Linked DNA regions of Homo sapiens. The protein of the gene in region 1 purifies or fractionates together with the protein of each later gene. This does not show direct contact. Each region holds a gene or a part of one and is shown in the gene's direction. Other genes may lie near its edges. The genes, in order: KCMF1, THOC2, ACOT9, IDH2, TXNL1, SRSF3 and CPSF7.

Region 1 (3,500 bases):
CAGGGACAGCGGGTTTGGGGGTTGGGAGGGCAGTTTTTGGAATGTAAATTTAGGACTTTTAAAAAGGTGCGCACAGCTTCTGATAAATTTATAACTAGACTTAACCTAATCATGTCTCGTTCCAGTTCTCTTTTCTCTGAGCCCTTTTCAAAGTCTCCTCTCTTTCTCCTGTCATCCTTTTCCTTTCCTGTCCGTGTATCTCCGTTTCTTCAACATGACAAGCATACAGACTTGAACACCCCTCCGGTGTTCTTCCGAGAACTGTGAAGTCCATGTTCATCCAAATGTAACCAAAAAAGAAGTCACCCTACATGTCTGAAAAACTGTTGCTTCTCCTCTGAAACTTCAAACTCCAACGATTTCCAAATACAATAGCTTTGTTTTCTTTAGTTCTGTAATGGATAATGTTTAAAGGAAAACTTTACACCAGGCTTCTGGTTACACTAGAAGTCAAGCCCATTAGGGATTTTCATTTTTTTTCATTTGGTTGTTGAGAAGTTTCAAAAATCAGTTTTCAAGCTGTGGTCTTTCAAACACATCTGCACATAAGTCACACATTTCAATAAAGCATTTTCAAGACTGTTGACCACTTGAATTTCTTTGGTGTTAGTGGATTAACCTAACCATTACTCTGAGATTTTATATCTCTAATCCAGTATTTTTTTTCTTTTTATGCTAAACATGGGAGATCCTGGTTTTGTGTGAATGCATTATTTTGGATGTGAGAAATAAATGCCAATTATATGTACTTTCCCTTTTCTGCACAAATTCTGGGAAAATGTAAAAGCCTTCATTTTTTAACATGGTTTTAGGGAACAACTGTAAGTCCATTCAGAGCAGTTTAATTTAGATGATCACTTTTAACACTGCAGAAGACCTAAGGAGTCATAAGATTCCATCTCATGTAGAATACTGTATATTAATTATTTTTTACCAGATATTTTACAAATACCTCACCTCATCCTGTATGTAATCAATAATGTATTATTTTAGGGTAGAACGACACAGAATATCAATATAAAAATATATTCAAGCCCTTGAAATTCTTGTGTCCTTTTTCTTTAGTTTCTGAATGAAAATCTTATTACTGGATGTACTATTGAATAAAAATTAATTGCAAAGACTTTGATGGAGACAAAATCAAAATATACCACTGTTTATTTTGGCAGCACCTTCAAATTTCTAAGGACCAGATCCTGAATTTTGAGAATTTTTTGTTTCGTTGAGTTTTGAGTGTCTAGGATATAAGTTTATAAATGTTCTACAGTGCTTGTCTTTACTTCCTGTTTAGAAATCATTTAAATCTTTCCCCTCGAGGTGCTCTGGAAGAAGTTTAATTTCAGCTCTGAACAAGTAGAAATAACTGTGCTTCCTTGTATGGCTGCAATCATAAGACAGAATTTCTGTGGTTGGCTACCGTGAAATCTTTGTATTTATATTGCATTGTTTTGTTAAAAAAAAAAAAATCCACAGAAGTAGAACCTAGGTTTGCTACTAACAAAGTAGTGGATTCTTATAATTAGGCTCAGGTAAAGTAAGAGAAAACTTCTCTCCCTGTGGCCCCCAGAGAAATGAAGTAGGATAGCAGATTACACTATTAGAAATAATAGACGTAACAAAAAAAATCCAGCCCATTATCCCCACCCCCCATTTTCCCTCTCAATATTAGAAATTTCAATAATATGCTGACAGATTTTCAAAGGTCACCAAGGCTTTTGTGTTTTTTTCCGGTCTGTGGGCCACAGTTAAAAGAACGGGTAACAGGTTCAGAGTTCTCTTGATACGTCCAAGCCTTAGTTTCCAGGAAAAAAGCTAGGCTCCTCACTGCAAATATTAACGCTTTATATATTTACTCCATGGATGTTGGGGTAAGCACATATATCAATAGTTCATAGCTCTAGTTAAGGACAAAGTGGGTTGGGGGGTAGAAGGAGAATACTAGAGAGGTTACGGTAGCAGGTGGCTGCAGAAAAGAATCTTTTGAATGGGATTCCTGTAACAGTGTTCAGTACCAATATTAAGTCTACTGTAAGTGGGGTCTGATATGGCTTACTGATACAGGCATGTGTAAAAAACTAAGTGTGATGGAGGAATGGGTGCTAAAAGCTCTTAACAGTTTTGTAGAGAAGCCCTGCAGCCGTGTTTACTATATATGACATGCCTGTTTCTTAGTTTGCATGCACAGTTTAAGGGGCACATGCAATATTGGTTTCATGTGCAGTAAAAATTAAAACACGGCTGAGCGTGGTGGCTCACGCCTGTAATCCCAGCACTTTGCGAGGCCGAGGCGGGTGGATCACGAGGTCGAGTTTGAGACCATTTTGGCCAGCATAGTGAAACCCCATCTCTACTAAAAAATACAAAAAGTTAGCTGGGCATGGTGGCAGGCACCTGTAATCCCAGCTACTCGGGAGGCTGAGGCAGGAGAATCGCTTGAACCTGGGAGGCAGAGGTTGCAGTGAGCTGAGATCACGCCGCCATTGCACTCCAGCCCGGGCGACGGTGCAAGACTCTGTCTCAAAAAAAAAAAAAATTAAAACACTAGGTACGAAATTATCCCAGAATTATACGCGAAAGTTGGTGTTCATGCTGGAAAACAGTTACGGTTATCTGTGCTCTTTCTAAAGCTCAACTAGACACTAAAACAGTTCTCTCCTTGAGACCGGAAGTGGGATGGGGGTGGGCAGGTGGAAGGGAAGAGGCTGGGGAGGAGCCTCTCATCTCATCTCATTTCAGCCTCAACAGTAATTGAAACCCTATGCCTGGCCTGGAGTGGGTAGAGGTTAGGGTTAGAGTGCAGGATGGAGCAGCAGTCTGCAGACTTTCAGGTTGTGACGATGTCATGAAATTCTGTGCTATTAAACATGGCTATGTCTGAGTCAGTCATTACGGTATTCCAAAGCCAAATTCAAGTGACTGTTTTTCTGAATAGTATAAAAATCTAATTCCCTGTGCTTATCGGCTTCAACTGTGCTTACACAACGTTTGTTTCTAATTCGTACTCTTGCCTCTTGGTTTCTGTAGTTTTTCAACCCATTTCTGTCAGTGTTCTATAAATGCATACATTCGTTATTTAAGGAACCCTGCAGCAGACCTCGAATAAAATGTGACTTGATGTTTGTTGCCACTTCCTCAACTTGGTTAGCAAATTCAAGTTTTGAAAGACGATTCGTCTCAGAGAAGTTGATCCTGAACCTCCACGTCACATTTTAGTCGGTTGCTATTAGGTGGGTAATGCCTAATAACATGGGTTCCTCAAATCACAAAGGAGAATGCTCTCAAGTCCTCATGTTAACTTTAGTAAGTCAGTTAACTTTACAGCAACTAAAGAGATCAATTAAAAAGAACCCTTAAGTCTGACTGTCCCAGGTAACTTTACTTGCTGTACAGATAGTGCACAGATATGGATGAGGGCTGCACATGGCTGATTTGAAAACCCATGTGGGGCCGGGTGTGGTGGCTCACGCCTGTAATCCCAGCACTTTGGGAGGCCAAGGCGG
Region 2 (3,500 bases), on another chromosome or scaffold:
CTAGTAAAACCTTGGATTAGTCAACCTGTCAGGGCCTTGGCATCTTTTTTTGTAATATGGTCATGTGGTTATACTTGTAGATAGTCTCTAAAGTCCTTTTAAGTTATAAAATTTGGATTCTTAATTGTTAAAATATTCCTAAAATGACTTCTTAATCACTTTGGAAAATATGTTGATTTTGTCTTATTTTTTAAATTTAGTGTCATGATACCCTGGTGCAGTTTGGTGGGTTTTTAGCATCTAATCTGAGCACAGAAGATTATATAAAGCGAGTGCCTTCAATTGATGTACTCTGTAATGAATTTCATACACCCCATGATGCAGCATTTTTCCTGTCTAGGCCAATGTATGCCCATCATATTTCGGTAAGTACAAGTGTCTTTGCTGCCGCTCAAGAACGATCCAAATTATTTCTTAACGGTTTTATCTGTAAGTACATATCACTACAGATTTTGGGGGAAGGTCTTGGCCCTAAACTAGGATCCCTTCTTTGTTTCCAATAGGGGTACGAAGCTGTGTGGTAGAGGTATACAAAAAAGGTGATGAGAAATTTGGAGTCTAATTGATCATTTAATCAAACATCTGCTGTTAGTGTTTACATATCAACTGCTACAGTCTCCCACTTCTTTCCTAACTAACTGCTACTTGATTTAATTATCACTTTGTTAGCACTATGCAGAAATTCCTGTGTTATGTATACACTCTGAAGGGAAAAAGACAATAAGGGAGTGGTGTTAGGCTGCTTCTTCCCCTTTAGATCCTCTCAATCCAGAGAATTGTTTGCCGTCTTTGTGTAACGTCTTACTGTTGTCACACCCCATGGTAGATCAGTCTCAGCTGTGCAAGAGGGTACCTGATTTCTTGACAGACAGAGGTGGGAGAATTTCTTCATCTTAGGAATTCTGACCTGCCCTGTGCTAAGTGAACACACTAATCAGCAATATGGAATCCTAGCAAACAGGAACACCTGGTTGTCTGTGGTTGGCTGAACTTTTCCAGCTCAGAAAATGGAGCAGGTCATTCAAGCTACTTTTTCTCTCTTACTTGTGTAAAATATTACCTTTGTCTTTTAAGAGATACAAAAACCTAAACAAAGAAATGGCATTTCCCTCTCAGGCTTGGAAGAAAACAGAAAACTAAATGAAAGTGGCTGTATAGCCAAGTCAGATATAAGTCTTTTATCTGTAGGCAGCATGCCACTCTCTGGAAAAGGTGTTTCCCAGCAATCTTGTGGTTGTGCTGGATGGGCATCCAAGCTGTCCTGGGGATCCTTGCTTTTGCTTCTTGAGTGAAAGCCTCTGTTGAAGAGCCTTCGTTGAGAGAGTGAAAATGTATATTAGGTGATTGCTATGTCCCCTCTATAAACTATCAGCAGGCTCTCTTGAGGATAATTCAGCCAAACGCTGCCCAGATTTTTTTTTTTTTTTTTTTTTTTTTTTTGAGATGGAGTCTCGCTCTGTCTTCCAGGCTGGAGTGCAGTGGCGCAATCTCAGCTCACTGCAACTTCCACCTCCCGGGTTCAAGCGATACTCCTATCCCAGGCTCCCAAGTAGCTGGGATTACAGGTGCCCGCCACCACACCCAGCTAATTTTTGTATTTTTAGAAGAGATGAGATTTCACCATGTTGGCCAGGCTGGTCTCAAACTCCTGACCTCAGGTGATCCGCCTGCCTTGGCCTCCCAAAGTGCTGGCATTATAGGCATGAGCCACTGTGCCTGGCCTGCTCAGATTCTTGAGACGAGATTTTTGAACAATAGTGAGAAGTACAGCAATAATTGTGGATATCAGTTCTATTCCATAAGTCTAGTTCCCCAGGCAATTTGAAATGTAGAACTGTTATGTCTCTTCATTTGACTGAAGGTGTGAACTTGAAGTGGGAGTTAAACTGACTTTAGACAAGGACATATTCATCTTGGGTAAATACGAAGTATAGCCTTCTTTTCTGACCAAGCCTATTTTTCTAACTAGATAGTGACTATGGGGTTCCTAGCAATAGAAATCACAGATTCAGACCCAGAGGACTGGGGAGATTGGAGCTATCATGTAACCCTCTCATACCTATAAACTAATTTTTAGTTTTAATTGTTGAGGTTGTGGTCCACCTTGAGACACAGGTCTGAAAGATAGGCTTTTAACCTAGTTCATATTCTAGATCTTGCCCAGAACAGGTAATTAGGCTGTCTTTTATGCAGATAATGTCAGCCCTATTTTATCCCGTTTTGTTAGAACCTTAGCAGAAGTCATTCTGCTCATCTAGATTCATATTAGTTACCTTCAATAAGACCTGTCCTCTAAATTAAAAAACACTCTCTGTTTTCCCAACTGCTATTCCCTCAGGTTTCTGATGCAATTGGGACTCCTTTTTCGTAACTAATGTTCTTTGTAGCTTTGTCACTTACGTGGTCTCAGTGGTTGTCAGCATGCTCTCTAAAATGGGGATAACAGAGCATAAATCTTCCCACTTCTAGAACAATTGTAAAATTCTAGAACAATTGTAAAATTGAGCACTCAGGAAGGAAGGCAGGTAACTGAGCTGTAAGGAGCTGAGACTCTTTTGCCTATCACAGTGTAGAACTGGAAGCAGAACCTTTGATCATCTCGTTTTGGGTTACGTGTTTAGCACAAATAGAATGATTTAAGTGATTTTCTAACGTAAGGAAGTAACTAGTTTTAGGACTTCCTTTAGGTTCGTATGAAGGGTGATACCTAACTTAAACAAAATTTTCTGGATGAGAGCTCTTTCATCCTAAAGAGACTGAAGGATGTGAAACAATAGCAGCAACTCTGTGTTATCTTCATATATATGTGTGTGTGTGTGTGTGTGTGTGTGTGTGTGTGTGTGTGTTCATGTATAATATATATGTTCATATATATGTTATCTTCATATATATAGAATATATAGAAAAAATATATATATTTTTGTGTGTGTATATATATGTATAATATATTTGGCATACACATCTCTGCAGCCCCTCCCATTGTACTAACAATTTTTTTTCCTCATACAATTAAGAATATGGCATTCCTCTGTTTTTTCCCCCAAATTAGGATAAACCAGTCAAACGAAAGAAGCTGCAGCATCAGTTCTCACATGCTTTAAACTTCAATATACCACAGCTTTTCACAGAAAAATTTATTTGGCTTAGCAGTAGAGTAACCAGTTGGTCCTGGTTTGCCTGGGATGTTCCCAGTTTTAGCACTGAAGTCTTAAATCCTCAGAAATCCCTGAATCCCCAGCAAACCCTGACAATTGGTCACCCTACTTAGCAGTCTTAAAACAAATTTCTCATAACTTTTCTTAGTGTTGATCCAGCTTTTTTTTTTTTTTTAATTTTTATTTTTTGAGACAGTCTCCTTCTGTCATCCAGTCTGGAGTGAAGGGGCATGATCTCAGCTCACTGCAACTTCTGCCTCTGGGGTTCAAGTGATCCTCTCACCTCAGCCTCCCAAGTAGCTGGGATTACAGGCCTGCGCCACCACGCCTGGCTAATTTTTTGTA
Region 3 (3,500 bases), on another chromosome or scaffold:
AGAAATTCAACAGTGATACAGTTATTTAATATGTGATCCGTATTCAGATTTCACCAGTTGTCCCTAAAATGTCCTTTATAGCTATCTTCCTGATTCAGGACCCAATCCATCAAGGATTGTATATTGCATTTGGTTATCCTGTTTCTTTAGAATAGTCTCTCTGCCATTTGCTGTCTTTCAAAAATTGATATTTTTAAAGAGTTCAAGCCAGTTTTCTTTTTCTTTTTTTTTTTTTTTTCTTTTTTTGAGACAGAGTTTCGCTCTTGTTGCCCAGGCTGGAGTGCACTGGCACGATCTCGGCTCACCGCAACCTCCACCTCCTGGGTTCAAGCAATTCTCCTGCCTCAGCCTCCCGAGTAGCTGGGATTACAGGCATGTGCCACCACGCCCGGCTAATTTTGTATTTTTAGTAGAAACGAGGTTTCTCCTTGTTGGTCAGGCTGGTCTCAAACTCCCAACTTCAGGTGATCCCCACCCGGCTTGGCCTCTCAAAGTGCTGGGATTACAGGCGTGAGCCACCACGCCCGGCCTAAAGCCAGTTTTCTTGTAGAGTGTTCTACAACCTATATTTGACTGTTTCCTCATGATTAGAATCAGGTTAAACATTTAGCAGATGCCAGTATCCTTTTTATAATGTTAAGTTTCTAGTGTGCAATTAAGGCTGTAACTGTAAGGCTTCCCTAATTGTTCCAGCGTTCACATGTAAGGCAAGCAGTAAGCACTACCCAAAATGAAAAGCAGATTCTTTAAAAGTAGTAGGTGATTGTTCATCTTCAAGTTTTATTAGATAATGGCATATCTTAAATTATATTCTTTTTTTTCTTCTTTTTAGGCCGGCATTTGTAAATCCACTCATCCCTGAAAGCCCAGAGGAAGAGGAGCTCTTTAGACAAGGGGAATGTACATTAATTTGTTTATAATAAAATAAATTTGAAAAGCACATTAATTACGCTGCAGAAGAGATTATTTAAGATTTTATATGGGCTCTTCATACCAGTCAAATGTCTTTTTTTTGTTTGTTTTTTTGTTTGTTTTTTTTGAAATGGAGTCTCTCTGTCTCTTGCCAGGCTGGAGTGCAGTGGTGCCATCTCGGCTCACTGCAACCTCTGCCTCCTGGGTTCAAGTGATTCTTCTGCCCCAGCCTCCTGAGTAGCTGGGACTACAGGTGCGCGCCACCACACCCAGCTAATTTTTGTACTTTTAGTAGAGATGGGGTTTCACCATTTTGGCCAGGATGGTCTCGATCTCCTGAACTCGTGATCCGCCTGCCTTGGCCTCCCAAAGTGCTGGGATTACAGGCGTGAGCCATTGTGCCTGGCCCAAATGTCTTATTCATACCAATAATTTATTGAAATTAAAAATATGCTATTCTTTTTTCTTTGGAGTCCATACTTTGAATGATTTTATTGATCAGACAATATTTATTAAGTGAAGTAATTTGTTATCTCCGTTTTTTTTTTTTAGACAGTTCTTGCTCTGTTGCCCAGGCTGGAGTTGGGCTTGGGTCCAGGAGTTTGAGGCTACAATGAACAATATTGTAGTCTCGATCTCCTGGGCCCAAGCTATCCACCCACCTCAGCCTCCTGAGTAGCTAGGACTATAGGCACGTGCCACCATGCCTGGCTAATTAAAATTTTTCTTTGTAGAGACAGGGGTCTCACTATGTTGCCCAGGCTGGTCTTGAACTCCTGGACTCAAGCAATCCTCCTGCCTCCGCCTCCCAAAGTGTTGGGATTACAGGCATGAGCCACTGCACCTGGCCTGTTTTCTCCGTTTTAATGAAGTGAGAAATGCATCTCAATGGGATAACTGCAGGTCAGGGCTCTGGATCAGGATGATATCAAGTGATCTCACACTGAACCAATATAATTTCCATGTGGAACCAAAGACTCACTGGGAGTTTTATGTGGCCTCTGCAGTTTTCTCTTGGATACGTGTATAATTTTCAGTGAGATTTTGAAAGGCATCCCAGGTCAGAATACCGTGTGCTGTAGTGCGACCGTCCTGATCATTGCTCCTTATTCTCCCTTGTTCCAGTGAACAAGGGGAGAAGAATTGCCTTCAGCTCCACGTCGTTACTGAAAATGGCCCCCAGCGCTGAGGAGAGGACCACCATACATGAGATGTTTCTCAGCACACTGGATCCAAAGTAAGGATGGTGAGATTCCACGTTGGGAAAACATTTAAACCTTGGCCTTTTTTTTTTTTTTTTTTTTTTGAGACGGAGTTTCGCTCTTGTTACCCAGGCTGGAGTGCAATGGCACGATCTTGGCTCACTGCAACCTCTGCCTCCCGGGTTCAAGTGATTCTCCTGCCTCAGCCTCCGAGTAGCTGGGATTATAGGCATGCACCTCCACGCCTGGTTAATTTTGTATTTTTAGTAGAGACGGGGTTTCTCCATGTTGGTCAGGCTTGTCTTGAACTCCTGACCTCAGGTGATCTGCCTGTCTCCACCTCCCAAAGTGCTGGGATTACAGGCGTGAGCCACCACACCCGACCTTTTTTGTTTTTGAGATGGAGTCTTACCCTGTTGCCCAGGCTGGAATGCAGTGGCGTGATCTTGGCTCACTACAACCTCTGCCTCCCGGGTTCAAGCAATTCTCCTGTCTCAGCCTCCCAAGTAGCTGGGATTACAGGCGCCCGCCACCACGCCTGCTAATTATTTTGTATTTTTAGTAGAGACGGGGTTTCACCACGTTGGCCAGGCTGGTCTCAAGCTCCTGACCTCATGTGATCTGCCTGCCTCGGCCTCCCAAAGTGTTGGGATTACAGGCGTGAGCCACCGCGCCTGGCCTAAACCTTGGCCTTCTCCAGAGCCACAGTTGTCTGAGTGTATTGGGAGTGACTTGCAAATGTTTTTACTTTTCAACAAGAGAACCATGGCATTAACAGGGTTTAATAAATATTCATTTGTACAGGACTATAAGTTTTCGGAGTCGAGTTTTACCCTCTAATGCAGTGTGGATGGAGAATTCAAAACTGAAGAGTTTGGAAATTTGCCACCCTCAGGTATTATAATTTAGTGAGAAATCCGAATAGGATAGCTTCCGTTCATGATATTTGTCCAAGATTTGACACACCTTTAAACTGGCCTTTGTCCTGTGGCATTGTTAATTCCTCTGTTCTGTATACAAAGGTGGCCATAAGTTTTGTATTTATTGATATTTATTTATGTCCTGTAGGAGCGGAACATTTTCAATCGGATCTTTGGTGGTTTCCTTATGAGGAAGGCATATGAACTTGCGTGGGCTACTGCTTGTAGCTTTGGGTGAGTTACATGTAAGGCAGCCTTAACTTCTGAGAAGCAATTTATATCACCCCACTGAAATGAAACATTTCGGACCAGTCTGGGTGTGTGTGGGAATATGTTATGTTTTTGAATGAATACCACACTGATACCAGCTGAATTTGATCTTCATTTTAGAAGGTTGTTTCTCTGACTTTGTAAGTTCATACATTAAAAAAACTACTGAGAAAATACAGTGATGATATGTAGAAAG
Region 4 (4,292 bases), on another chromosome or scaffold:
GAAGAGAGAAACTTTGTTTGTGGCAGAATCAATTACAACTGTCTTTTGTGGCCAGGTGCAGTGGCTCACACCTGTAATCCCAGTGCTTTGCGAGGCCGAGGCGGGAGGATCATTTAAGCTTAGGAGCTGGAGACCAGCCTGGGCAACATAGTGAGATCCCCCCATCTCTATTTTTAATTAAAACAAACAAACAAACCCATCTTTTATATGCAAACAGGCAAAAATGGAACTGTTTCTACTGTGGCTGTTTGACTACTCTAGGGTCTCAGAAAACAACACCCCAAAATGCAGGCCTCAGGAGCAGCTCTCTCTGACCCTCTCCCTCCCTCCTGTCTTTGGCCCCTCACTCTCCTCCGAGGCCAGCCATAGAAACTGGAATCCTTCTTCCTCAAGGCAGGTCATAGAAACCAGAGCCCTTCTCCCCCAAAGCCAGACATCGAACCCAAAAATATTACTCTTTCTCCCACACATTTCTGGGTAAAAACTGGCCATAAATTATCTGACCTACCTTGTTTGCTTGCAGGTCCTAAGACCCCTCCATCCCAGAGAGAGTCCTGCCCCGTACTCAGAAGGAAGGAATGCTGCAGAGAAAGGTCAAGAAGAATCTACACGGACAGGACTTGCTGGGTTTCCCCACTCAGGTTATTGGCCTTCTGGTCCAATCATATTTCTTTTTTCGTGGTTTTTTTTTTTTTTTTTTGAGACGGAGTCTCACTCTGTTGCCCAGGCTGGAGTGCAGTGGCATGATCTCAGCTCACTGCAATCTCTGCCTCTCAGGTTCAAGTGATTCTCCCGCCTCAGCCTCCTGAGTAGCTGGGATTACAGGCGCGCGCCACCATGCCCGATCAATTTTTGTATTTTTAGTAGAGACAGGGGTTTCATTATGTTAGCCAGCCTGGTCTCGAACTCCTGACTTCAAGTGATCCGCCTGCCTCGACCTCCCAAAAGTTCTAGGATTACAGACGTGAGCCACCGCGCCCGGCCCAAAGTGAGATTTCAACTCTCTCTACACCAGCTGGACCTGACAGCGGACTCGCGGAGGCGCAGACGCCGCCGGCGGTCTTAGCTCAAGAATGAAGCAGCCGCACTGGGCTAATGCGCCTTTGGGTTCAGCCCGGCAGGCGAGGGAAGCAAGAGTTCGCTCAGATTGGCTTTTGGGTTTAAGCTAAAGCGTCAGAAACTGACATCCAGGTTTACATGGGGCATCCTGGAGAGGGTCAGCCTCGCAAGCGGCTCTGCTAATCCCCCAGCCCTGATCCCGCTCGCGGGTCCCGGTGGGTCTCACGCCTGTAGCTCCTGCGGAGCTGGGCTTTCAGCGGCGCCCAGAGAAGCACCAGCCGGGCCTGGCCGCCGGGTCCCGGCTCCCGCGGGACGCTGGAGGCGTCGGCGGCCCTGGCCCCGCCTCCTCCCCGGCAAGGCCCAATGGGGCGGCAGGCCCGGCAGCCCCGCCCCGGTGGTGCCCGCGCGGCCAGCGCCCGCCAGGCCCAGCGTTAGCCCGCGGCCAGGCAGCCGGGAGGAGCGGCGCGCGCTCGGACCTCTCCCGCCCTGCTCGTTCGCTCTCCAGCTTGGGATGGCCGGCTACCTGCGGGTCGTGCGCTCGCTCTGCAGAGCCTCAGGCTCGCGGCCGGCCTGGGCGCCGGCGGCCCTGACAGCCCCCACCTCGCAAGAGCAGCCGCGGCGCCACTGTGAGTGCCGCGCGGAGGGTCCAGGCAGGCGCGCGCCCCCAGCTGCGACGTGGCGGCTTCCCAGGCTGGGGCCGGGAAGCACGTCCCGCCAGCCCGCAGCCCGGGGACGGCGGGGTCAGGCGCACAAAGGGCCGCGGGGCAGCTTCGCTCCGCGCTCCCCCGCCCGGCGCTTCCCGGCCGTGCCAGGCGCTGGGGTGGGGACTTGAGGGACGGTGGCAACTGGTGGCCCGGGCGACGGCCAGCTCTGCGCGGGCGGGGGCTCGGGGCTGCCGCGCGCCCCTAGGTATTTCGGGAGGGGGTCCTGAGAGTGTCCCGGACCCGAAGGGTGGCCTGCCCGCCCTGCGCCCCTGGAACGAGACGAGCACCCGTGGGGGGCTGGAGCACCCCGCGCGCTCCCCTGGCGAGAGGGAGGGTCGTGGCTCGGCCCCTGCTCAGACAAAGGCTGGGAGGCGGGAGACATGCACTTCCCCTTCCTTTTCAGCCAGGCGCGCGCTGATACCAGGCCCACGTCAGCTATTTTTGGAGCCTTTTACACGACAGCTGGAGGAGCGTCCTTTTTAATTTTCCCCTTTTGTTTGGCCGCCCCCACCCCCACCCCTTCGCCTTCATCGCTGCACTTGAGGCTCCATCCTGGGGCCTCTCCTTGACTTGACCTGCCTTGGCAGGCACATGCCCTCCCTGCCTGGCTCACTCGCCGCAGAGACCTGGCAGCCCGCGCAAAATGTCACTTTGCGGAATCGTTCCCACGGCTTCTGGGTACCCTTAGTTCCCTGCTTAGGAGGGAAGACAGTAGTCGGGTCGTAATAAGCAAGACTTAGCCCGAGCCTCCGTTGCCAACGCAGGCTGCCTTGCTTGGCGTGTGGGCATCGGCCTGCCCCCTCACCCTGGCTACCCAACACAGCTACAAAAGGCAGGGAACAATGTAGGTCCCTTGGCCCTGCCTAATGCCTGTTGCCATGGAAACCCCTATCCTAATCTGGCCAGGAGCCCCTTGCAGTGAGCCAGGAGAGTGAGGAAGAGGGGATGGGGCCCGCTGGCCCTGACCTGGCCAGAGGAGGTAATGGTTAACCGGATTGTGGGAGCAGCTGACTAGAGCCGGGGGGGTAGGGAGGCTTGGGCCCCAGTCCTACCTTCCCTGCCAAGGAGAAAGGGGCATGTCTGCTTTTGTACCTCTGGGAATCTACCTCAGGGATCTGCCCAACAACTCCCAGGTTCCAAGTGCCCCAGGACCCAAAGATTCCCATATAGCACACCACCTTCAGCAAAAATATGGTGGAAGTTAGCCACATTCTTTAATTCTCCCTTTTTTTCTGCCTTGATGGTAAAAAAAAAAAAAAGAAACAAACAACCCGAAAAACACACACAAACAGGAACACAAAGCGCCTTTTAAGGGTCCTGAATTTGGATACAGAAAAAGCAGTCAGTTGCAGGCCCTTCTAGAAGTCCCCATGTGGGTTGGTTATGAATGGGGAAATTGCTTGGTGTTGGAGTTGGACATCAGACTCTACAGTTGCGACTCTGCCAGCTTGTTACCTGGCAACGCAGCTGGAGACAGAATACTTGGCATTCCCCTTGATGACAAGGAAAGAATATTTTGGGGCTAAAAGAGCCCCGTGTCTTTGCTGCCTGGTAATTCCTGCACGCATCTTTTCCTATTTTGCAACGCCATAGGCTTCCAGCGACTGCTGGTGATGTTTCTGGTAAGTTAGAGCTTGGGGCAGTGCGGACCAGTTCTGTGAACGGCTCAGTGGCAGAATTACTTATCTAGCCTTCCTTCACTCCTAACCCAGAAACTTCTTAATTCTTGCCCCTTAAGTGTGCAGATCTTTCTGCCACGTCAGATAAGGCCCTAGCTGCCCTGCCAGAGCTGATTGGGGTGGTTGTGTTTAGGCCTAGTAGGTACTGAGGAAAAGCCTCTTTGGAATGGCTGAGGCCTGCTCCCACATCTTCTGTGTGAAGTTGAGGGCCCTTGGGCTGGTTCCATTCAGGGTATGAGGTGCTGGAAACTGCTCTCAGATTACTGGAAGCCAGGGTCTGTGGCCTTCCCTGGGGTTTATACTCTGTAAACCCATGTTAAAAATACCAGCAGATTGCAAATATTAGTACACTGTAGGTTGTAAGCTTCTTCAGGGCATGGGGCCTATTGCTGGAGAGAGATGCCACCCGTGTACATCTGGTGCAGGCTGCTGGTAAGAACTCACTGGCCCCTGTGTGGCAATGCATACCAGATGGGTGAGAGGGGAGGAAACACATTCAGTGAAACAGAAGGTGAGGGCAGGGCAGCCCTGACCACAGATGGAGTTGACTTCAACTTGACCTTTATTTATGTCTTTGACAAAAGTAGTATACTCCTACTTTGTGCCAGACACCATGCCGGGTGCTGGGGATAGAGCTGGGAATAAAACCAGCAGAGACTCTTTCAAAACCCTTAGGAGCTCAAATTCTGATGTGGGAGGGGGCAGACAGTAAGCAAGATAGATGTTGACTAGTATGATATATGGGTACAAGAGCTAAGGAAGGCCAGGCACTGTGGCTTACACCTGTAATCCCAGAATTTTGGGGGGCTGAGGTGGGAGGATTGCTTGAGGCTGGGAGCTCCAGACCAGC
Region 5 (3,500 bases), on another chromosome or scaffold:
GGGCCCTAAATATGTAAAAATTTTTATCAACCTACCCCGATCTATGGATTTTGAAGAGGCAGAAAGAAGTGAACCAACTCAAGCTCTGGAACTGACAGAGGATGATATTAAAGAAGATGGCATTGTTCCACTTCGTTATGTTAAGTTTCAGAATGTTAACAGTGTAACTGTAAGTAGTATTTCGTTCATATGTATTTAATAGGTTTGTGAGTAACAATACTATTTTCAGTATCCTAGGTAAGTCTAAGTGATTCTTTAAAGTGGTATTTATTCACTCAGTTTGAAATGAGTAAAATGTTTAATGGGATAAATTTTCTTCTTTTTAATTTATGTACCCTAAAGAGGAAGGACAGATTGATTTTTGAATATTTGTGGGGTTTTGTCAGTTATTTTATATGTATATGGTAAGTTTTGCTGGAAGTTTATTCTACAACTTTATACTAAAACTGAAGATATTTGTGCTTTATTCTTTATACCTGGTATAGTAGTGATGTGTTTGTAAAATCTTATTTACTTTTCTTGAATATGGAGTTTTTAAGTGTGGTGGTCATGATCTTAGTAAAAATGACTTTTTATTTATTTATTTTTTTTTGAGATGGAGTCTCGCTGTGTTGCCCGGGCTGACTTGAACTCTTGGGCTCAAATAATCTTCCCGCCTCAGCCTCCTGAGAAGCTGGGATTACAGGCATGCACCACTGCACCTGGCTTAAAAATGACTTTTAAAAAGATAATACTACATTTTATAAGATGACCTAAGGTATATCTGAATTTTTTCTTCCTTTGAGGCAGGTTCTTGCTTTGTTGTCCAGGCTGGAGTACAGTGGCACGACCTTGGTTCAGTATAGCCCTGATCTACTGGGCTCAGGTGATTCTCCCTCAGCCTCCAGAGCAGTTGCAACCGCAGGCACGTGCCACCTCACCCAGCTAATTTTTTATTTTTGTAGAGGTGAAGTCTCTCCCTGTGTGGCCCAGGCTGGTCTCAAACTCCTGGGCTCAAGCAGTCCTCCCACCTCAGCCTCCCAAAGTGCTGGGTTTATAGGCTTCAGCCACTACACCCAGCCTTTCTGAAGATTGACTAGTGCTTGAGGTGATTTTAAGTGATGTATTTTAGATGTCATTATTAAAGTGCCACTCTCAAGAATCAGCTAATTTTTAGCAGTTATTAATTGCTTTTAAAAAATTTAGCATTGAAACCCAGCTCACACTTCTCACCTACAGTCATTTAGAGGAATGGGTAGGACAGTTAGAAAAGAATAGCAGAATACTTAGAAAAAGAAAGTAGGAACCAGCACAGAGCCACTGAGAATGTCATGCCAAACTGGTACAGCTTGTTTGTTGTGATGGAATAATTCTATTTTTGTAAATTAGAAGAATGCTAAAGTATGTGTTCATTTAAGAATGTTTTTGAGAGTTTCACAGAATATACATAGTAGTAGTATGAAGAATTATAATTGGCTGGGTGTTGTGGCTCACTCCTGTAATCCCAGCATTTTGGGAGGCCAAGATGGGCAGATTGCTCGAGCCCATGATTTTGAGACCAGCCTGGGCAACATGGTGAAACCCCATCTCTACAAAAAAATACAAGAACTAGCTGGGCATGGTGATGCGCCTGTAGTCCCAGCTACTCTGGAGGGACCACTTGAGCCTGGGAGATTGAGGCTTCAGTGAGCTGCAGTTGTGTCATTACACTCCAGTCTGGGTGACAAAAAAAAAAAAATTATAATCAAGTTGAGTTTTAAGTATTAGAAATATCCTACCCAAATGAAATCAAAGAAAATTGTTATATTAAACTTAGTATACTCATTATCAAATATTTTCTTGAAATAACATATGGCTGCCTATGAAAACAATAAAAACTGACGAATGAGTGGCATCTCAGAATGAAAGAAGTATGTTGTTTAAATCACGAGAGGCAGTTTTTAACTGGTCATGGGAGTACGCTGGTAGTCCCAGCTACTTGGGAGGCTTAGGCAGGGGCATCACTTGCACTAAAGAGTTCAGGACCAGCCTAGGTAACATAATGAGACCTTGTCTCAAAAAAGAGATAGGTGCAATATTTTAAAGTAGACAGCACCTAGAATATTGTGTTTTTAGAAATGGAGCAAATTTCAAAAATCCAATGTATGACAAAGGATCAATGAGTAAAACTTTTAGTTTTTATCGTGCTGAGGGGAGTTATTAAATATAGAGTCAAGCTTAAAAAAAAAATGAGGCACATAGTATTGTTTTAGGAGCTGATTCCCAATACTATTTTTTCTTTTAATATTCTAGGAAATAGAATGGATACAGGAATATCAGAAAGAATATCACTTTAGAGATTTTCCTCAGTGAAAAACTATGATTTTAATAAAATTTCCAATGATAGTCTGTCCCATTGTAATTGTAACTCTTAATACCCTTTCAACATTCTCTATAAAGAATTTAATTGCTGGGCGCGGTGGCTCACACCTGTAATCCCAGCACTTTGGGAGGCTGAGGCAGGAGGATTGCCTGAGCTCAGAAGTTCGAGACCACCCTGGGCAACACAGTGAAACCCTGTCTCTACTAAATTTAAAAAAAAAAAAAAAAAAAAAAAGATTAGCCGGGCGTGGCAGCATGTGCCTGTAGTCCCCCCTCCTCAGGAGGCTGAGGCAGGAGACTTGCTTGAACCTGAGAGGTGGAGGTTGCAGTGAGCTGAGATGGCACCACTGCACCCCAGCCTGGGCAACAGAGCAAGACTCCATCTCTTAAAAAAAAAAAAAAAAAAATTAGCCGGGTGTGCTGGTGGGCTACTCAGGAGGCTGAGGCTGGAGAATCGTTTGAACCTGGGAGGCGGAGGTTGCAGTGAGTCGAGATCGTGCCATTGCACTCCAGCCTGGGCAACAGAGTGAGACTCCATGTCAAAAAATACATATAGAGAGAGAATTTAATTGTGACTCTGCCATACTATCACACCAAGTTACCATGAACTTATATATATGGGTCTCTTGCCATGACATCTCTGGAGAAAGTGAGAATAGCAGGGCAAACAGCCCTATAATTAGTAGTCCTATCCTATAGGAGTACTAGTCTTAATGTTATATAATTTTGATTAATTTTTTTTTTTTTTTTGAGCCAGAGTTTTGCTCTTGTTGCCCGGGCTGGAGTGCAGTGGCACGATCTCAGCTCACTGCAACCTCCACCTCCTGGATTCAAGCGATTCTCCTGCCCCAGCCTCCCGAGTAGCTAGGATTACAGGTGCCAGTCACCACACCTGGTTAATTTTTTTGTGTTTTTAGTAGAGATGGGGTTTTGCCACGGTGGCCAGGCTGGTCTCGAACTCCTGACCTCAGGTGATCTGCCCACCTCAGCCTCCCAAAGTGCTGGGATTACAGACGTGAGCCACTGCACCCAGCCTAGATTAATTTTTACAAAGAATGGAGAATATTTATGTTATTAATTTAAGGAAATTGATTAAACTTAAAGCATGTTTGTGAAGAAGGATTGTAATTATAAATGCAAACTTTTTTTTGGTAGATATT
Region 6 (3,500 bases), on another chromosome or scaffold:
TTGACATGAAGTTTTGCATTGGACAGATCTGCTGTGAAGCATTCTTTGTTAAAGTGAATCCATGGTTGGAATACCTGCTTTTCACTTGAGCTTTTTGTTTCTTAATCCTTCTGTGCCTTTTTTTTCTTTTCTTTTTTTTCTTTTTTTTTTTTTTTTTTTTTTTTTGGACGATGGGTGCCAGTTCTTCGGCACATTCACTGGGCCCAACAGTGAGATTGAAAAGTTGGGAAATGCCTCACGCCATAAATACTAATTGATGATGAGCCTAATTTTCCTGTTTCTGCTTTTAGATCTCCAAGAAGGAGAAGCTTCTCTCGCAGCCGGAGCAGGTAAATGACTACCTTTTTTGGCTACGTTCTTAGAAATGGCAGTGTTTCTGCTATTCCTAAACTTTTCCAGGTGGCTTAGTTAATGGGAATAAACCTTGGCTTTAATAGTGAATCAAGTTGTAAGGATGAGTCAGCTTTCTTTGAGTTTTCAAAGGCTTTTTAGAAAGTATTTAATTTTTTAAAAAAGGATCTGTCACCCAGGCTGGAGTGCAGTGGTGTGATTATAGCTCACTGTAGCCTTTAACTCCTGGCCTTGGAGTGATCCTCCCTCTTCAGCCTCCTGAGTAGCTTGGACTACAGGCAAGTACTGCCATACCTGGCTAATTTATTTTTTGTGGAGATGGGATCTCACTTTGTTGTCCAATCTGTTCTCAAACTCTTGGCTTCAAGTGAGCCTCCTGCCTCTGCCTCCCAAAATATTGGAATTATTGGCATGAGTCACCATGCCAGATCAAGAAAATATTTATGTATAATTTTATCATACCTCATTGGTCCTAATGTTTTTTTGCTTGTTTAGGTCCCTTTCTAGAGATAGGAGAAGAGAGAGATCGCTGTCTCGGGAGAGAAATCACAAGCCGTCCCGATCCTTCTCTAGGTCTCGTAGGTAAGATCTTTGATAACTTGTATTTAAGACTTTGCATACATAGTATGCTAAGGCCTGTCTTCTAAGCCATAAATTTTTTACCTTAAAGTTCTATTTCGATATGTCACTAAAGTGTCACCAAGTTACAGATGTAATGTTTTGTTTTCTTTTTTTTTTTTTTTTTTTAGTCGATCTAGGTCAAATGAAAGGAAATAGAAGACAGTTTGCAAGAGAAGTGGTGTACAGGAAATTACTTCATTTGACAGGAGTATGTACAGAAAATTCAAGTTTTGTTTGAGACTTCATAAGCTTGGTGCATTTTTAAGATGTTTTAGCTGTTCAAATCTGTTTGTCTCTTGAAACAGTGACACAAAGGTGTAATTCTCTATGGTTTGAAATGGATCATACGAGGCATGTAATACCAAGAATTGTTACTTTACAATGTTCCCTTAAGCAAAATTGAATTTGCTTTGAACTTTTAGTTATGCACAGACTGATAATAAACCTCTAAACCTGCCCAGCGGAAGTGTGTTTTTTTTTAAATTTAAATACAGAAACAACTGGCAAAAATTGAACTAAGATTTACTTTTTTTTCCATAGCTGGGATATAGGCTGCAGCTATAGTTGAACAAGCAGTCTTTAAAAACTGCTGTGAAACACAGGCCATCAGGGAAAACGAAATGCTGCACTATTAAATTAGAGGTTTTTGAAAAATCCAACTCTCATCCTGGGCAGAGGTTGCCTAGTTGGTATAGAATGTTAAGTTTCAAGAAAGTTTACCTTTGCTTTAGGTCATAAGTTCCTTATTTGATTGCTGTATATGGATACATGGCTGTTCGTGACATTCTTTATGTGCAAATTTGTGATTTCAAAAATGTCCTGCCAGTTTAAGGGTACATTGTAGAGCCGAACTTTGAGTTACTGTGCAAGATTTTTTTTTCATGCTGTCATTTGTAATATGTTTTGTGAGAATCCTTGGGATTAAAGTTTTGGTTACAAATTGTTCTTTAACTTGAAAGCCTGTTTTTCCTTGCAAACTCAAATCTGTGAGCTTGGTACCAAGTCCAGGTATAACATTCCTATTGGAAGCCATACTTATATTTTCTTGTAAAGTGCTTTTGAATTAATAAAATATTAGCATAATTGTGTATAGTCAGTTGAACCCACTGTTACCATTGTTCTTATCCCATGGGAAGCAGTTGGTTACACGATTCTTATTTTATAAGAAACAGCTGAGAGGCACTATGGATTAGTCTTCTGAAGTGAAGGAAATATAGATGTCACCTAAGTGATAGTTAACCCATTTTTTTTTTTTTTAGGCATAGAAGCCAGTTCAGGGTCCATAATATTTAGTGACCAACATTTTAAAGTATAGCAGCAACCTGGTTCTTAAACACAAAGTAAGTTGCCCATTAACAAATGGCTTTTATCTTTAGCATGAAAACTTTCCACAGGTCTAAAAATTGCTTCCATTTTATAATTTGAGGTGTTGCATGGGAATTCTAAGCTGATCCATCATGATGTAAAAGTTCACAATATGGTTCAAATGTAACAGTGCAGAATTGAATATGGAGGCATGCATAACCTTCCTCTTAGAAAATGGCAGGTGTTGTAATTTCAAATTTTTGTGCAATTAGATTAAATCATAATGCAACAGTCTTGTGGCTTAGTTTCCTTAAATATGCTCTTAAGATAGTTTTGGATTATGCGGTATTGACTGTCTTAAATATGAAAGATAAGTCATTGCATTAAGAGTTCAAGCTAAATGGATACATTAAGATACAGTTCCTAAACAAATTATTTATTTCCACCTTTTACACAAATCTTGGGAGAATTGGTGTCAGGAAGGTTCAGCCTTAAAGTTAAGCATGTTCAAGAAAGACACTTTTCAGACAGCCTGTTTATTTACTGAGAGCTCTGGCATTGGGCATTTTGTCTTTAGTATTCTCACATAGCCTACAACCTGTTCCTGTTAGGAACAAGCCAAGATAGCTAAGAAGTTACGGAAGCCATGCAATATGTCAATTACATTGCTTTTTATAAATGGACAACTTATGTGGGCATTTTTGGGCAGTATATGACTTCCTTGCAGGCTCTTAAGTTGGAAGGGTTTCTGTAAAAAGGACAGTTACGGGTATAATATGGCTAAGAGAAATAATACAGAACCTGAAATAAAAGTAACTTCACCAGGGAGTTATCCTGACTTAGGTGACATACAGTCCCAGTTGGCAGTTACTTTAACCAGGAGCCCTAGCATAACCTCAAGACTCTTAGAAACTTTAGAACATGGAAATTGTTAAAAGCTTTGAATTGCACATTTAGATTGTGGCTATTAGGAATTTTTAAAGTTGTAATTCCTAAAATAACAGGTCACACTAACCGGTCTTGTCCATATTCAGGGTTGAGTGTAAAAATGAAAGGAATCACAAAACTGAACTTAGACCTGTGGTTTAAGGATCAAGGTGTTCACTAGAAGTCACTGTTACTAATACTTGATGACAATGTAAAGAAACATTAAGGATTATATTTGATTGTTTTCAAAGACACTGGCTGGATGTGGTGGCTCACACTTGTAATTCCTAGCACTT
Region 7 (3,500 bases), on another chromosome or scaffold:
TCTGAGGCTAGGCACGGTGGCTCACGCCTGTAATCCTAGCACTTTGGGAGGCCGAGGTGGGCAGATCACGAGATGAAGGGTTTGAGACCAGCCTGACCAACATGGTGAAACCCCATCTCTACTAAAAATACAAAAATTAGCTGGGCATGGTGGTGTGTGCCTGTAATCCCAGCTACTCAGGAGGCTGAGGCAGGAGAATCACTTGAACCCAAGAGGCAGAGGTTGCAGTGAGCTGAGATGGCGCCACTGCACTCCAGCCTGGGCAATGGAGCAAGACTGTGTCTCAAAAAAAAAAAAAAAAAAAAAGATTTCTCTGAGGTAATTACATTGTAGAATCCTGAACCCTTTTTTTTTTTTTTTTTTTTTTTTTGATATGGGGTCTCACTCTGTTGCCCAGGCTGGCTCACTGCAACCTCAACCTCCCGGGCTCGAGTGATCCTTCTGCCTCTCGAGTAGCTGGGACTATAGATGTGTGCCACCATGCCCAACTAATTTTTGTATTTATTGTAGAGATAGGGTTTCACCATGTTGCCCAGGCTGGTCTGAAACTCTTGGGCTCAAGCAGTTTGCCTATCTCTGCGTCCTAAAGTGCTGGGATACAAGGCGTGAGCCACTGCACCCAGCCTGTAAAATCCTAAACATTAAGGTCCTGTATCGTAGTAGTAGTAGTTGTAGTTTTAGGGGTTTTGGTATATAGTAAGTAAGATATCACATAGGCAGAATATGTATTTTGCACATTTTCCATAATACATATTCATATTGTAAATGCTTACTGTGTGATACAGTTTATGTTCTTGTCCTGTTTTCTGGCCCTTATATTTTAGAGAACTTTAACTGTTTTTTGTATATCATTGAATATTGGCTGGGCATGGTAGTCACCCCTGTAATCCCGGCACTTTGGGAGGCCGAGGCCAGTGGATCACTTGAGTCCAGGAGTTCCAGACTAGCCTGGGCAACATGGTGAAACCCTGTCTCTACAAAAAAAATTTGAAAATTAGCTGGGCATGGTTGCGCATGTCTGTAGTCCCCAGTTACTTGGGAGACTGAAGTGGGAGGATCACATGAGCCCAGGAGGTTGAAGCTGCAGTGAGTTGTAATTGCACCACTGCCCTCCAGCCTGGGTGACAAAGTGAGACCCTGTCTCAAAAAAAAAAAAAAGTCTCCTAGATACATGTCATGGTAATGCATTGGGCCTGTATGTCATTTAAGAAATAGAACTTAGTAGGGGAAAACCCCTGTTGTTATTCCCTTCCCTTTTATTTATTTTTTATTTTCTCCGATGGAAAGATGGGATTGTGTACAATGAGTTTAGAGCTTTCCTAAATCATTTATACCAATCAAGGGATTTAAATCAGTAACTCCCAATCTTTTCTGCATTTTTGTACCCACTTTCATGCTTTTCCTCTGCATTCTGTTTCTAAATAAATTTATTATTAAATAGACAAGTGAATTTTATGTAACACTTGATTTTGGAAATAGCATAAGATACTGAAAATAAGTTTTCATTAGCTTATCTTAGATGTGGTCTTTAGAAGCTGACCTTATTGATAACAGCAGCCCATGCATCTCATTATGCATTCTTTCTTTGCTTGCTTAATCACCCAGTGCTTTTTGATTCTTGCCGTTGGCTAAAGCCAGAAACTTTACAGACTATTAACAGAATCTTGAGGGGAAAAAAATGTACATAAGCATAATTAAGTGATACAGTTTCAAAAGGAGGTTTTTCTTACTTTGTTTCCTGGGGTAGGACAAGGAAGTTTTGTACATGTTTTACCAAGTATTTAACTGGATTCTAATAAACTAGAGTGAAATAGAATGAACAAAATGAAGTTTGCAGACCTACCTTTGCCAACCCCTCATCTCTTAGGACCCAGAGTTCAACAATACAGATCAGATTGACCTGTATGATGATGTGCTGACAGCCACCTCACAGCCCTCAGATGACAGAAGCAGCAGCACTGAACCACCTCCTCCTGTTCGCCAGGAGCCATCTCCCAAGCCCAACAACAAGACCCCTGCAATTCTGTATACCTACAGTGGCCTGCGTAATAGACGAGCTGCCGTTTATGTGGGCAGCTTCTCCTGGGTGAGTGTGGGTAACCAAAAATGCTTAGGGGTGGGCTGGAGGGAGAGCACTGGGAGGTGATGGCATTTTCAGAAACTACTGTTGCACTGTTTTGTGCTCTGATGGGGTTGGATTTCTTTTTCCTGGGATCAGGTTGGATTGATCTCTGAAAGAGAACTATCCTGAGGACGTACTGGTGCCGAAGAAAGCAATGATTAAGTGGGTAGTTGCTTTTTCTGCCATCTTGTTACTGCCCCTGACCCTGGGGCTTTATGTCTAGCAGGGTCATCTGAGGGACGAGATTTCAGAGTGAACACCTTGAACTCTTGGTGGTCATTAGATGGTCCTGTGATAATGGTGGGTGATGGGGATTAAAGACCTTGATAACTCTAGTATACTTGGGGTAGGTGGTGACTGTTGTTCTGCAAGTTATTTTGTGATGTTTTGGGGCTGGTGGTGGGGGTGGTTTTTCCAAATTAGGAAGTATATTTACTGTGGGGGAAGTTCTGGCAATGGTCAACTCTAGCCTGACAGATCTATAATTAAAAAATTGCTAGCTGTCAATGTTTGAACTGATGACCAGCCAGCCCAAACGGCAGTCAAAGTTACAATAAGTTTTAATCTTCGTAATCTCTAAAGATGGAGATTGGGGGTGAGTGGGTTTGGAATTCTGTATGGGTGAGGACAATAAGAAAAGTCTGCACTAATTGAAATATTGCCAGGCTTTTGAGTTTCCTCTGGGGGGACTTAGTTGTGACTAGAATCCTGGGTTTGGGACATTGGCGGGCGGGGGTGTAGCTCTTGACATCTCTTCCTTTTCCATCTTGCCGGCCCCAGTGGACCACAGACCAGCAGCTGATCCAGGTTATTCGCTCTATAGGAGTCTATGATGTGGTGGAGTTGAAATTTGCAGAGAATCGAGCAAATGGCCAGTCCAAAGGGTGAGGTCTGGATTTGAGAAGCCCCTTTTAATTTGTAACCATTGGGATAAAAGATCTGTACTATATTTTGGCCCTGGATTTTAATCACTCCCACCCCTGGCCCAGCTTACTGCCTTGGTTTTGGCAAACTGCCTTAGAAAGGGACCTAGCTGCAGTGTAGTAGAATATCCATCTGTTAAGGGGCGAAGAATACTGATTTTTAATTCCAAAAAAATAAAGATTTAGGCTGTCTCTTTGTTGTTAGTGCTGTATGTGTGTTTAGTTTAGCAAGATGTCCTTTGCTTTATCAATTTTTACTAAAAGTGGAAGAGAATTTCTTTTTTCTTCTCTTGGCTGTCTACAGATTTCATTCATTTTTAATTTTTCTTTCCTAAGGTATGCTGAGGTGGTGGTAGCCTCTGAAAACTCTGTCCACAAATTGTTGGAACTCCTACCAGGGAAAGTTCTTAATGGAGAAAAAGTGGACGTGAGGCCGGCCACCCGGCAGAACCTGT

The links.
Region 2: the proteins of KCMF1 (region 1) and THOC2 purify together in Homo sapiens (co-immunoprecipitation; one large-scale study listed by IntAct). This does not show direct contact.
Region 3: the proteins of KCMF1 (region 1) and ACOT9 purify together in Homo sapiens (affinity purification with mass spectrometry; 3 studies listed by BioGRID and IntAct, with this or other methods). This does not show direct contact.
Region 4: the proteins of KCMF1 (region 1) and IDH2 purify together in Homo sapiens (affinity purification with mass spectrometry; 3 studies listed by BioGRID and IntAct, with this or other methods). This does not show direct contact.
Region 5: the proteins of KCMF1 (region 1) and TXNL1 fractionate together in Homo sapiens (co-fractionation; one large-scale study listed by BioGRID). This does not show direct contact.
Region 6: the proteins of KCMF1 (region 1) and SRSF3 purify together in Homo sapiens (affinity purification with mass spectrometry, with the first as the bait; one large-scale study listed by BioGRID). This does not show direct contact.
Region 7: the proteins of KCMF1 (region 1) and CPSF7 purify together in Homo sapiens (affinity purification with mass spectrometry; one large-scale study listed by BioGRID and IntAct). This does not show direct contact.

Annotation. Positions count from the first base shown.
Region 1 is NC_000002.12:85,054,661-85,058,160, forward strand, and holds part of KCMF1 (E3 ubiquitin-protein ligase KCMF1), read left to right. Parts: 3' UTR 1-3,500. UniProt on the Homo sapiens protein: E3 ubiquitin-protein ligase which accepts ubiquitin from an E2 ubiquitin-conjugating enzyme and then transfers it to targeted substrates, promoting their degradation by the proteasome.
Region 2 is NC_000023.11:123,628,553-123,632,052, reverse strand, and holds part of THOC2 (THO complex subunit 2), read left to right. Parts: intron 1-200; coding exon 201-365; intron 366-3,500. UniProt on the Homo sapiens protein: Component of the THO subcomplex of the TREX complex which is thought to couple mRNA transcription, processing and nuclear export, and which specifically associates with spliced mRNA and not with unspliced pre-mRNA.
Region 3 is NC_000023.11:23,705,277-23,708,776, reverse strand, and holds part of ACOT9 (acyl-coenzyme A thioesterase 9, mitochondrial isoform a precursor), read left to right. Parts: intron 1-832; coding exon 833-900; intron 901-2,037; coding exon 2,038-2,149; intron 2,150-2,918; coding exon 2,919-3,009; intron 3,010-3,182; coding exon 3,183-3,268; intron 3,269-3,500. UniProt on the Homo sapiens protein: Mitochondrial acyl-CoA thioesterase. Catalyzes the hydrolysis of acyl-CoAs into free fatty acids and coenzyme A (CoA), regulating their respective intracellular levels. Regulates both mitochondrial lipid and amino acid metabolism.
Region 4 is NC_000015.10:90,099,669-90,103,960, reverse strand, and holds the start of IDH2 (isocitrate dehydrogenase [NADP], mitochondrial isoform 1 precursor), read left to right. Parts: upstream 1-1,492; 5' UTR 1,493-1,570; coding exon 1,571-1,685; exon of another isoform or gene 1,686-1,829; intron 1,830-3,339; exon of another isoform or gene 3,340-3,385; intron 3,386-4,292. UniProt on the Homo sapiens protein: Plays a role in intermediary metabolism and energy production. It may tightly associate or interact with the pyruvate dehydrogenase complex.
Region 5 is NC_000018.10:56,611,093-56,614,592, reverse strand, and holds part of TXNL1 (thioredoxin-like protein 1), read left to right. Parts: coding exon 1-169; intron 170-3,495; coding exon 3,496-3,500. UniProt on the Homo sapiens protein: Active thioredoxin with a redox potential of about -250 mV.
Region 6 is NC_000006.12:36,600,862-36,604,361, forward strand, and holds part of SRSF3 (serine/arginine-rich splicing factor 3), read left to right. Parts: intron 1-290; coding exon 291-329; intron 330-846; coding exon 847-933; intron 934-1,100; coding exon 1,101-1,128; 3' UTR 1,129-3,500. UniProt on the Homo sapiens protein: Splicing factor, which binds the consensus motif 5'-C[ACU][AU]C[ACU][AC]C-3' within pre-mRNA and promotes specific exons inclusion during alternative splicing.
Region 7 is NC_000011.10:61,419,976-61,423,475, reverse strand, and holds part of CPSF7 (cleavage and polyadenylation specificity factor subunit 7), read left to right. Parts: intron 1-1,837; exon of another isoform or gene 1,838-1,867; coding exon 1,868-2,086; intron 2,087-2,218; exon of another isoform or gene 2,219-2,284; intron 2,285-2,345; exon of another isoform or gene 2,346-2,419; coding exon of another isoform or gene 2,420-2,422; intron 2,423-2,902; coding exon 2,903-3,006; intron 3,007-3,381; coding exon 3,382-3,500.